Homo sapiens: one gene and its partners. The protein of the gene in region 2 interacts with the protein of the main gene of each other region in a biochemical or structural test. Each region holds a gene or a part of one and is shown on either strand. Other genes may lie near its edges. The genes, in order: CSTF2, CSTF3 and FIP1L1.

Evidence for each region.
Region 1: the proteins of CSTF3 (region 2) and CSTF2 form a complex in vitro, tested with the Homo sapiens proteins (one study listed by BioGRID).
Region 3: the proteins of CSTF3 (region 2) and FIP1L1 form a complex in vitro, tested with the Homo sapiens proteins (one study listed by BioGRID).

The regions. Positions count from the first base shown.
Region 1 is NC_000023.11:100,818,278-100,822,032, reverse strand, and holds the start of CSTF2 (cleavage stimulation factor subunit 2), read right to left. Parts: upstream 1,643-3,755; 5' UTR 1,617-1,642; coding exon 1,559-1,616; intron 507-1,558; coding exon 428-506; intron 1-427. UniProt on the Homo sapiens protein: One of the multiple factors required for polyadenylation and 3'-end cleavage of mammalian pre-mRNAs. This subunit is directly involved in the binding to pre-mRNAs.
Region 2 is NC_000011.10:33,105,868-33,109,622, reverse strand, and holds part of CSTF3 (cleavage stimulation factor subunit 3), read left to right. Parts: intron 1-1,204; coding exon 1,205-1,237; intron 1,238-1,622; coding exon 1,623-1,720; intron 1,721-3,558; coding exon 3,559-3,625; intron 3,626-3,705; coding exon 3,706-3,740; intron 3,741-3,755. UniProt on the Homo sapiens protein: One of the multiple factors required for polyadenylation and 3'-end cleavage of mammalian pre-mRNAs.
Region 3 is NC_000004.12:53,387,559-53,391,313, reverse strand, and holds part of FIP1L1 (pre-mRNA 3'-end-processing factor FIP1), read right to left. Parts: intron 1,506-3,755; coding exon 1,441-1,505; intron 794-1,440; coding exon 686-793; intron 306-685; coding exon 175-305; intron 1-174.

The DNA of each region.
Region 1 (3,755 bases), on a different chromosome or scaffold from region 2:
CTATCTCTGCCTCCCGGGTTCAAGCAATTCTCCTGTCTCAGCCTCCTGAGTAGCTGGGACTACAGGCATGGGCCACCACGGCGGCTAATTTTTGTATTTTTAGTAGAGACAAGGTTTCACCACATTGGTCAGGCTGGTCTCGAACTCCTGACCCCAGGTGATCCGCCTGCCTCGGCCTCCCAAAGTGCTGGGATTACAGGCTTGAGTCACTATGCCCTGCCTAAAAAACATTTTTAACGAAAAAAACATATTTTAGGTAAGAATAAATGTCAATTGTATAGTGTATCAATTATATCTCAATAAAGCTGTTACAAGAACAAAATGTATGTGAAAAGTCACCAGTAAAGAAAACCTGCCATTATTACTAAGAGCCAAATCTGTGGTGATTTTTAAGAAGCTCCCACCATGAAGGAAAAGGGGATCTCACCTGAAACTAACAACAGGTCCAACCTCAGAAAAGATGTCCTTCAACTGCTCTTCAGTAGCTTCATAAGGAATGTTCCCCACTAAGGAAGAAAATAGGTAACATTAAAATTCTGAGTTTATAACATAGATCTTTAGTGAGAAAGTAAACTTATATCATCAAATATAAGACTCAAAATAGTGTTCTCCAATCCCAATTCCATTGTATTTCTTCAGACCTCTTAACAAAGGAAATATACCACTGAAACTAAATACAAAATGTGTAGGTACTCTCAAATGTTAGTTCTCAGACTGATCTGACACGTGTTAGATTTTCCTTAACTTTGGTGCAAATAAATACTTTGGCACTGGTATTTACCTAAAGATCTGCAAGTCTCATCAGTGACTACAAAAAATATCAATGTTATTTAATATAATTTTTAAAACAGGTTCCTATGTATTTCCACACATACAACATTTAAGGGAGAATGACGATGAATGTAGTGAAAGATGTTTAAAAAGTATTCTGAACTACTTTGTCATGTCCCTTTCAAATGGTACTCTAAAATAATCACACGTATTTTTAAAAACAACTTATTTCAGCCAAAAAGATAATTCAGAATCGTTTCGATCCTTTTTAAAATTCCTCTGAGGAGATCTTAATAGTTCATTCATTCATTCACTTACAAGCCATCTCAGGACACCAGGTGGCCGCTACCACTATTGATGCACTAAAATGTTACAGATAAAAAGCAAAGGATGAAAGTCCTTAGGAGAGGACAGTAAGTGGACACTAGGATCTATACCCTCAGCATATAGTCTGTATTCTGGGGCAGAGGATGAGAAGTAGTACGGGACAGTGAGGAGCTGTTACCGTGAGCCTTCTCCTCTAGAGAATAATTGAAGCTCATGAAAGGAGAAACGCACAGAAGCTGAACGCTAGTCTAACTTCCCCACTGATATTGCGGAAAGCCTACGAGACCTCGGCAGAATGGGAATATCTCTTTGCTCATGAGTCCACCAGGTTGGACGCCCTACAGGATAAGCAGGGAGAACTGCACGTCCGAACCGTCAGCGGCTCCGGTAGCGATTCATGAGATAGAAGGTGCAGAGGGGAGTCCCTCCCCGAAGCTTGACTACAACGAATTCCTCTCACCGAACACAGAACGTAGAGAACGATCCACCGCTGGGTCTCTCACAGTCAAACCCGCCATAGCTCTGTTGAGTCGGCTTCCGGTGCGCCAAAGCACACTTCCGTACGGAGCACAAGCCCAGCGCTGAGCACGCTTCCGTACGGCGCGTGAGCCGGAAGGGCCTGGGCGGAACGGACGCAGAGCCCCTCCCCTGGAGACATTCTGTTAGCCGCAGGCGCGAGTTGCGTCCACCGGAGGGCTATATTCTCACTCCTGAGATTAACTCTGTTCCGAGCCAGATGCAGGCGAGTCCAGGCTAATTTGAAGGGTTTCAGCCTGCAGACTTCCTTCTTATTAATTTTCTCTTAGGTTGATGCAAGTACTCCTCAACCACAATAAAGGCGCAGCGGCTTTACCATGGTAACAGGGAAGTCCTTTGCTGACAACTGTGGGGCTTGCATTTTAGTTCCGCCCTATCAAGGGAGGGAAATGCTTGGGCCCGTCCCAGCAGCGTGCATATTATTTGCTAAACCTGTTCGTGTGTGGAGTGAGATGAGGAAAGGGCATGCCAGCCGAGAGAAGCATAGTTAAAGAAATGGGAGAGGTAAAGGGAGAACAGACCTCTGTCCTCGTGTAGTCCGTGGGTTCCATGTGCTTCGTGGTGGGGCGGTGCGGCAGGGGATTCTGGCAGGCAGAGTATCGGAAACAGAAAACGTCATTCATCGGTTTTTCCACACTTTGGTGCCCACGCGCCTGGGATATGGCATGCAGGGCAGGTCGTTGTATCATCCCGGAAAGGCAGACCCTGCCGGGGTTGGAGGAAATCCAGGGGGCACCTCAGGAGGACAGGGTTAGGGGATAAGCAAAGGAAGGAGCCAAGAGCGCTACCTTTGAGGGACTTGTCCGAAAAAGGAAGACGGTAAAATAGCCACGGAATTGGAGGCATGGACGTTTTTATTAATTCCACATGTATTAAAAGTATATGGGCCGGGCGCGGTGGCTCATGCCTGTAATGCCAACACTTTGGGAGGCCGAGGCGGGCGCATCACCTGAGGTCGGGAGTTGGAGACCAGCCTGGCCAACATGGAGAACCCCTTTTCTACTAAAAATACAAAATTAGCCGGGCGTGGTGGCGCATGCCTGTAATCCCAGCTGCTCAGGAGGCTGAGGCCAGAGAATCGCTTGAACCCGGGAGATGGATGTTGCGGTGATCCGAGATCTGCCATTGCGCTCCAGCCTGGGCAACAAGAGCGAAACTCCATCTCCAAAATAAAAGTATATGAAATATGATAAATATTTAGAAAAAATTAATAAGTGCTAGTTTACACCATGAAGCATATCACTTTAAGAAGTAATTCTGGTAAAGATGGAAAGTTTGAGAAGAGTATACCCATTTCCATGACTCTAGAGTCCCATTTGCAATCACTGTGTGACCAAGAGGACACCTTGTGTAATGGAATGGTCCAAAAGGAGATTTACAGCTCTGTAGAAGGCACAGTTTCAAAGAGTTTTGGTGTGTCATTGTTCCGTTGTGGTGAACTTTTGCTAAATGCATGTACGGCTGAGTATATTTCTAACTCAGTGTTTGGCAAACTTACATAAACAAAAGATTAACCTGGGGTCTTTGAGTAAGAGTATAGATTCCTGGGGCTCCACCCCAGCCCTATGGAATGGGACTCCAGGGAAAGAACTTGGGAATCGTTATATTTAAACAAGTGCCACTGGCGATTCTTAGGGTCAGGTAATTTGAGTAGCATTGTAGTTATTGAGGTAGCTTTATGGCAGCATTTAAGACACGCATGCTTTCTTATGAAATTTCCCTTAAAGTAGTTCTCAAAGTTCTCAACCCTTGTGGAGGAGCATTTTTGGAAATGTACAGTGGCATTTTCAGTTGTTGCAATGACTACTGCTAGGGGAAGAGAAGCCAGAGATGATAAATGGACTGCCATGTCCAAGGCAGTTCTACAGGATGAACCCCTCCCCCCACTGAATGCCAATAATGTCTCTCCCCTTGAGAAACACTTAATATCAGCCATATTAGACCAAATGGACCCTGGATCTGAATGCTATGTTGCACTGCCAGCCTTGCATAAATAATTTTTACTTTAGCCTTCTTACAACTGTGTAGCTGATCCCAATGAGTTAGTAATAATAAAAGCTAACATTTATTAAGCACTTGCTGTGTCCTCATTGTATTAGTTTTCTATTGCTGTGTAACAA
Region 2 (3,755 bases):
ATAGCCCTGACAAAGTAGGTATTATTATCCCCCTTAATCAGCTGAGGGAAAAAGAGGTTAAGTAGATAGCCAGATTGTGAACCTAAGAGGTCTGACTCCAGAGCCTTGATTGAACTGCTTCAAAGTACAAAGAGCTGTGTTTAAGTGTGTGCTAAAATTTATGAACTCTAAAGATCAAGATAAAAAAGTCCAGAAGAGAACAAGTTATCAGCAAAAGCAAAAAAGACTGTCATCAGCATTCTCACCTGCAGTAGTTTAAGCCATAAAACTGGGAATACTACTCTATTACTGTACTACTTGAGATAAAAGGACCAAAACTTCTCTAATCAGCCAAAATATTTATTTACCTATCTGGGTGAAACAGATTTGCTGATTAACACAGTTGAGCACCTAACCCCACCCACTCTGTGATGAAAATACTCAAAGAAAAGAGAAATCTAATAGTATTTAATCTTGGTCTTTGCACATGCTATTTCTCCTGCCTGGAATAACTCTTCCCTTTCTTCAGCAAATAGCTCAGATTCTCCTAGAAAAAGTTATCTTTTTCCCGGAAATCTTTTGCAATTCCCCAAGTCTAAGTCTTTTGCTCTTCCAAAATGCTGTAGCACCCAGTACTTTCTTCATTTTAGCACTTAACCATAATATCTTACAATGACCTTCCACTTCGTTGTCTTATTTTCCCCATAAGATTGTAAGCTCTATGAGGGCAGGGGCAGACCTGTCTTGTCACAGTGGTAGCCCCCACGCCTAGCACAATATCTGCAATATATTAGGTTGATGGTGTGACTGAATGTTTATATGTAGTCCAAATTTGCATATCTTTTTTGCCGCTCAGATTGTTCTGGTAGCTATACAGGGAAAGGAAAGCCTTAAGTTTTTCTTCAGTGGATACATCCTATTCAGGTAGACCTATCGGGTATGTGTATATTTCTGTATTCATCTCATGACTTTTACAGAATTTTATTAAATTCACAAAATTTATATGTAAATGTATGAAAATCCATATAGATTCAATTTACACAGGTATATTTACAATGCATTTTATCCATGTTTGCTTCACACTTCTGTTATTTTTGAAAGTAACAGAAAAATTAATAAGAAACTATAGGGATGAATTTGCAAAGTTGGTTAAAAATTGGTCAAAAATTCAGACTGATGCTCTAAAAAAATAGTATTAATTCTATATTTTTCTGTTTCTCTTCAGATTAAAGCTAAAAATTATGACAAGGTTGAAAAGGTGAGTCCTCAAATACTTTGAATTTTATATTGAAGTTTAACTTAAAACCTAGTATGTATAAGACAGATGTAGTAAAATGTTAATAATAATTGAATCTAGATAGTGATTTTTTACAAGTTAATTGTACTTATTCAGCTTTTTTATATGCTTGAAAATGTTCATCATAAAAGTTTTGGAAAAGGAAAAGAAAATAATTATACTCCCCTGACAAATCATGAGAAGCATTTTAATTATCTAAACTGAAAATGGGGAAATTATTTGCTTTTTATTTATAAGAGATAAATTCATAAAGGGAGCTGAATTTGTGTTTTTAATGTTCCATTTCATCTATGTCCATGTGAAATTTATTTAACTGGATTCTGATAATATATTCTTGTATTTAAAGCTATTTCAGAGATGCCTTATGAAGGTTTTGCACATTGATTTATGGAAGTGTTATCTTTCATATGTCCGAGAAACCAAGGGTAAACTACCAAGTTACAAGTAAGTGAAACCAGGATCTTAAGAATGCAAGTCATCTCCAGGCACACAGTTAATCCCACATAAACTCACACCTTCTGTTAGCCCCAAGTGGGAAGAATTATCAGGATTTGAAAAGTCAGGATTTCCTAAGAATTAGTAACCTTGAAAAAAGTGCTTCAGAGAAAGTCACTGGCATGAGTCTTACTCTGGAGAATTGAATCGCCCAAGCCCTTTCTATACTGAAACACTGTATAATTGCAACACCAAACCACTTTGTTGACAGACTTGTCAAATTTTTTCAAAAACCATCTTCATACTTGTGCTAGTACCACTTTTGTGAGGTCACAATGCAATGTGCTACTTAAGTGATCTAAGGGGTCTCTGACATTTGTAGTGATATAAGGGATCTCTGACAATTGTATTGTGAAGTTGCCATCCCCACTCCGAATTATACCCACCTCCCCATCTTTGCCAAATCTAAATAATGGACCTTCTTCTGAGGTGCCATTTTTCTATGTAACTAACAGGCAAGTTATGTCTGTTACTAAAATTCTGTCTTTATTGTCTTTTCCTGATTATACTTTTTGTTATGATTTTTGTGTTTTGAGACAGAGTTTCAGCTCTGTCGTACAGGCTGGAGTGCAGTGGCACAATCACGGGTTCACTGTAGCCTCAACCTCTTGGGCTCAAGTGATCCTCCCACCTCAGCCTTCCAAGTAGATGGGACTACAGGCAAGAGCCACCACACCTGGCTGATTTTTTTTCTATTTTTTTGTAGAGATGGGGTCTCCTTATGTTTGAGACTCCAAACGTAGCAGGGTCTCAAGCATAAGTTAATGTCCCTAGGCTGGTCTCAAACTACTGAGCTCAAGCAATTCTCCTGCCTCAGCCTCCCAAAATGCTGGAATTACAGGCATAAACCACCACACCTGGTCTGTTTATTGTCTTATATTGAAGTGGAAGTTCTTTTTCCCTAATGTACCCTTTACATTTTAACATAAGTTGCATTTTAATAAAACTATACTTTCCAGATTTCTACATTTTACTTTAGAGCTAAAGATCTTAATGTCTCATTAATGAGAGAACCACAAATTTCCACATTTGAATCTGCTATGTATAGAATTATGCAACTTAAATGATATAAAGATAAGTAAGACATGAGCCTTATTTTTGATAAGCTCACAAGCAGTAGATAAAGGAAACAATTTATGATCTTGACAAGCTTAACATCAAAGAACGACTTTATATACTTAAAAGATGTCTTTAATTTATGTTTATAGAGAATGTTCAAGTGTTGTTCTGATCCTGTGATCAGAAGCTACATTTTAGTTATATATACATTTATTATTTATTTATTTATAGAGACGAGGTCTCACTGTGCTGCCCAGGCTTGTCTCCGACTCCTGGCCTCAGATGATCCTCCTGCCTCAGCCTCCCAAAGCATTGGGATTCCAGGAATGAACCACCACGTCTATCTTCAAATAATAATTTATTTTTAATTTTTTTTAGAGACAGGGTCTTGCTCTGTCACCCAGGCTGAAGTGTAATGGTGCATTCATAACTCACTGTAACCTTGAAATCCTGGGCTTAAGCACTCCTCCCACCTCAGCCTTCCGAGTAGCTAGGATTACAGGTGCACGCCACCATGCCCAGCTAATTTTTTTAATTTTTATTTTTTTAGAGACTGGGTTTTGCTATGTTGCACAGGCAGGTCTTGAATTCCTGGTCTCAAGTGATCCTTCTGCCTCGGCCTCCCAAAGCAGTGGGATTACAGGCATGAGCCACCATGTCTGGCCTAATTGTAGATAAATTTTAATAACAAAAAAATTTAAAAACCACGTCTTTCATGTTCATTTCAGAGAAAAAATGGCTCAAGCATATGACTTTGCACTGGATAAAATTGGAATGGAAATTATGTCCTATCAGGTAGAGTTAAAACTTTTTAATGTATGCACTTAAATGTAAGAATACCAAGAAAGATATTAACATTTCATTTTATTTCTTAGATTTGGGTGGATTACATCAATTTCCTAAAAGGCGTGTAAGTATTTGTATA
Region 3 (3,755 bases), on a different chromosome or scaffold from region 2:
CATTAAATACGAAACTCTAAAAGGGAGGGAAGGGAAAAACAAACATGGTAAACAAAATGGAATTTTTAAACTATCATATAGCATTTAACCACTTTTATAGGGAAGCGATTTATTTGGGGAGTAAAAGTGGGACGGTAGACAAGCCAAGGGTATTCCGGAGTATTTATTAATTACCGTAATTTTATTTGTAGTAGAGGTTACTGGTATAACTTCAAGTCCCATTCGTATCCTCTTTTGTTTTTCACAGTAAGCTTTCCAGGTATCTTCATTAAACCCATAATTAAAATAATCAGAAAGATCAGCACCTAAAGATAAAACACAACTTTAGTGTACAAATATTTCAGCTCTATTTTTATGCAGCATCAAAAATATACTAAACTATAAAAATATAAATTTAGAGTTCTATCAGTTATCACTCTATCATTTATGGTGGCAAAAAGACTATATCATTTTTGATCAAATTATTCCCTTTACAAACGCCATTATAATAAACAATAAGTCTACATTTTAAGTAATACAAGGCCACCAGTAAGATTTAATAATCCCAAGTCATTATTACTCATCATTTGCTTAAGACAATTAAAATTATAATGAAAAAATAAAATTCTAAATTGATGTTCAAAAAAATTTTCTGATGACTTCACACTGAAAATATTGAAATTAATATAATCCACAATAATCTTACCAGGTTTACGCCATGGTTTATCTTCAAAAGAATCCAAATCTACCTCTAAGAGTGGAACTCCATTAATGCTTCCAGGTGCATCAAGGTCTACTCCTTTGACTTTTGTCCCTGTTTTATAAAATTACAAAATGAAGGAGCTATACTTGCAAGAAGCCAGGCGATACCATAGACAAACAGAAAATATAAACACCTTTTTACTATTCCTGGCACATATACACACACAAACAGAAAACAAACATCTTTTTACTATTCCTGGCAAAAAACCTGGCAAGGGTTCCAAACAAAGCAGAGCCTAAAATACGTGCTACTGGACTCTTGCCAGAAAAACTTTACCAGTCTCTGTGATGTACGGTCAAAAATTACTCTTTAAAAAGAGCTATTATCACCTTGGCCGGGCGCAGTGGCTCACACATGGAATCCCAACACTCTGGGAGGCCAAGGCAGGTAGATCACTTAAGCTCGAAAGTTCAAGAGCAGCCTGAACAACATGGTGAGACCTGGTCTCTACATAAAAATACAAAAATTGGCCAAGCATGGTGGTGCACGCCCGCAGTCCCAGCTACTTGAGAAGGTGAAGTGGGAGGATGGTTTGAGCCCAGGAGACGGAGGTTGCAGTGAACTAAGATTGCGCCACTGTACTCCAGCCTGAGTGACAGAGCCAGACTCTGTCCCCGACTAAAAAAAAAAGCTATTAAGACCTATTTAAGATATGTGCCTTATTTCCCTATTGATGCAACAGAAAATACAAATTTTACCTGTAGTTCCATAAACTCTTCCCCCTGTCTTGATGTTAAGATTTACAGGTGCTGTACCATAACTCCTAAAAACAAACAAACAAAAAAAAACAGAAATTATCCTGAAAAGCTTAAACAAAACAGTAATATATTCCATTTGTACAAACAAATTATACAATCACATAGTAAATGGATAGTGTGACACACATTTTATTTCTATCTTTATTTTTTAAATTTTGTATAGATGAGATCTCATACCATGTTGTCCAGGCTGGTCTCGAACTCCAGAGCTCAAGCAATCCTCCCACCTTGGCTTCCCAAAATGCTGAGATTACAAGAGTGAGCCACCGTGCCCAGCTAACACATATTTTAAAAAACATTTTAAACTGATTTTTAAAGTCACTTGCTCAATAAAAGGCAAAAACAGTAAAAAAAAAAAGCCTGACTTGTTTCCATTTCAAAAACCTTTTTGCCAATAACTCAACATTCTACTGTAACAAACTTCACAAGAAATAAGGCTAAGAAGGGAAAAATAGTTTACACCCCTTGTCTTCATTTCCTTGCCTCCCAGTTATTAAATATACAGCACTCTTAAGCATAAGTAAAATTCCTCCAACTTGTTGTCAAATCTAGTGGCCTTTCAGTTCTTCTTGCATTTGATATTGTTAATAAATCCTTTTTCAACTATTCATGGAGTACTCAGTCCATAACAGAAATTTATTGACAAGAAATTCAAAAATAAGTCTAGCATGAAAGCAGAACAGTGTTTGCCGGTGGTGGGTGGTTAATGACCAAGAGGCAAAATGAGAGAAACTTCTAGGATGCCAATTATGTTTCATATCTTGATCTGGCTGTAGTTACATGAATGTATATATTTGAAAAAATATTAAGCTGCACCTTTTTAGATGTAATATAATACACAGTGATAAAGAAAAAAATATCTGAAGTTGGACCAACCCACATTCAAATGTTTTGTCAATTGCTAGTTGTGTAATCTTGGCCAAAACACCTAAGACTTGTATACAATTATTTGAATAATTCATTGCATTTTTACTTGTATAAATGAGCCTTGTATACATTTTCTGTAATACGGGGTTACAGACAGTTCTTTACTTCTTTATATAATGGATTCTTATATATGAGTAGTATTATCAAATATACTAATTAAAAGAGACTTTTCTGTTACTAGGGAAGTTAGAAGAAAACGGGAATGGGCAAAGAAGGACCAACTCCCACTGAACAAAAACATATCAGTAAGACGGCCGGGCACGGCGGCTCACGCCTGTAATCCCAGCACTTTGGGAGGCCGAGGCGGGTGGATCACGAGGTCAGGAGATCAAGACCATCCTGGCTAACACCATGAAACCCCGTCTCCACTAAAAAATAGAAAAAACTAGCCAGGCATGGGGGTGGGCGCCTGTAATCCCAGCTACTCAGGAGGCTGAGGCATGAGAATGGCGTGAACCCAGGAGGCGGAGCTTGCAGTGAGATCGCGCCACTGCACTCCAGCCTGGGCAAAAGAGCGAGACTCTATCTCAAAAAAAAAAAAAGATATCAGTAAGACCTCAAGTCACAGATGTTTATAATGATATATTTCTCACATTATATTCATGTTATATATTTGGTTCTTTTCTCTCAGAACTTCAGCCATCTGGACTTCAGATTCACTGCTTTGGGTCTAATAATAATTACTTCCATCTTTTGTCTCTGATGTACTACATTTAAGACTTAGGTTTAGTTACATTTGCACTGTCACTTTTCTTTTCTACTTAAAAAAGAAAAATGTAAATTCAATAAAATGTTTAATTGTATCAAATAACTGTAGCTCCACAGCTAGAAATGCAAAAATTACAAAGTGGACCAAATATTACTACTGTCAAGCAGTACTATCGTCACCAACTTGAAATAATCATTTCATAGGCTGATTAATTCATGTAATGCTTACTGAGCACCAAACCATGTCAAGTATGGTTCTAGGCTGAGGAAAAAGTATGAGGAGCTGGACAATTACGGTTCCTGCCTTCACGATGTTTACATTTTAACAATCCAAATTCAGAAAAAGTGACTTAGCGGTATCTACATATGATGTACATGATTTTTCTACAAATGTACAAAAATCAAGGATTTTCTCTAAACTGTTCTCTTACAGGACCGTATAGAATAAAACAGTATTTTTATAAAAGGCTTAGCCACAAGTGTTCAATAAATGAGCTTCTTCGCTTTCCACCTAGCTACTTTCTATTCCCCATTCTGCCTTTTAAAACATCATTTTTCTTTTTTAAGCCACAAGCCTTTGTAGAGAAGCCTGTGTAGAGAAGCTTAGTGGTATGAAAAAT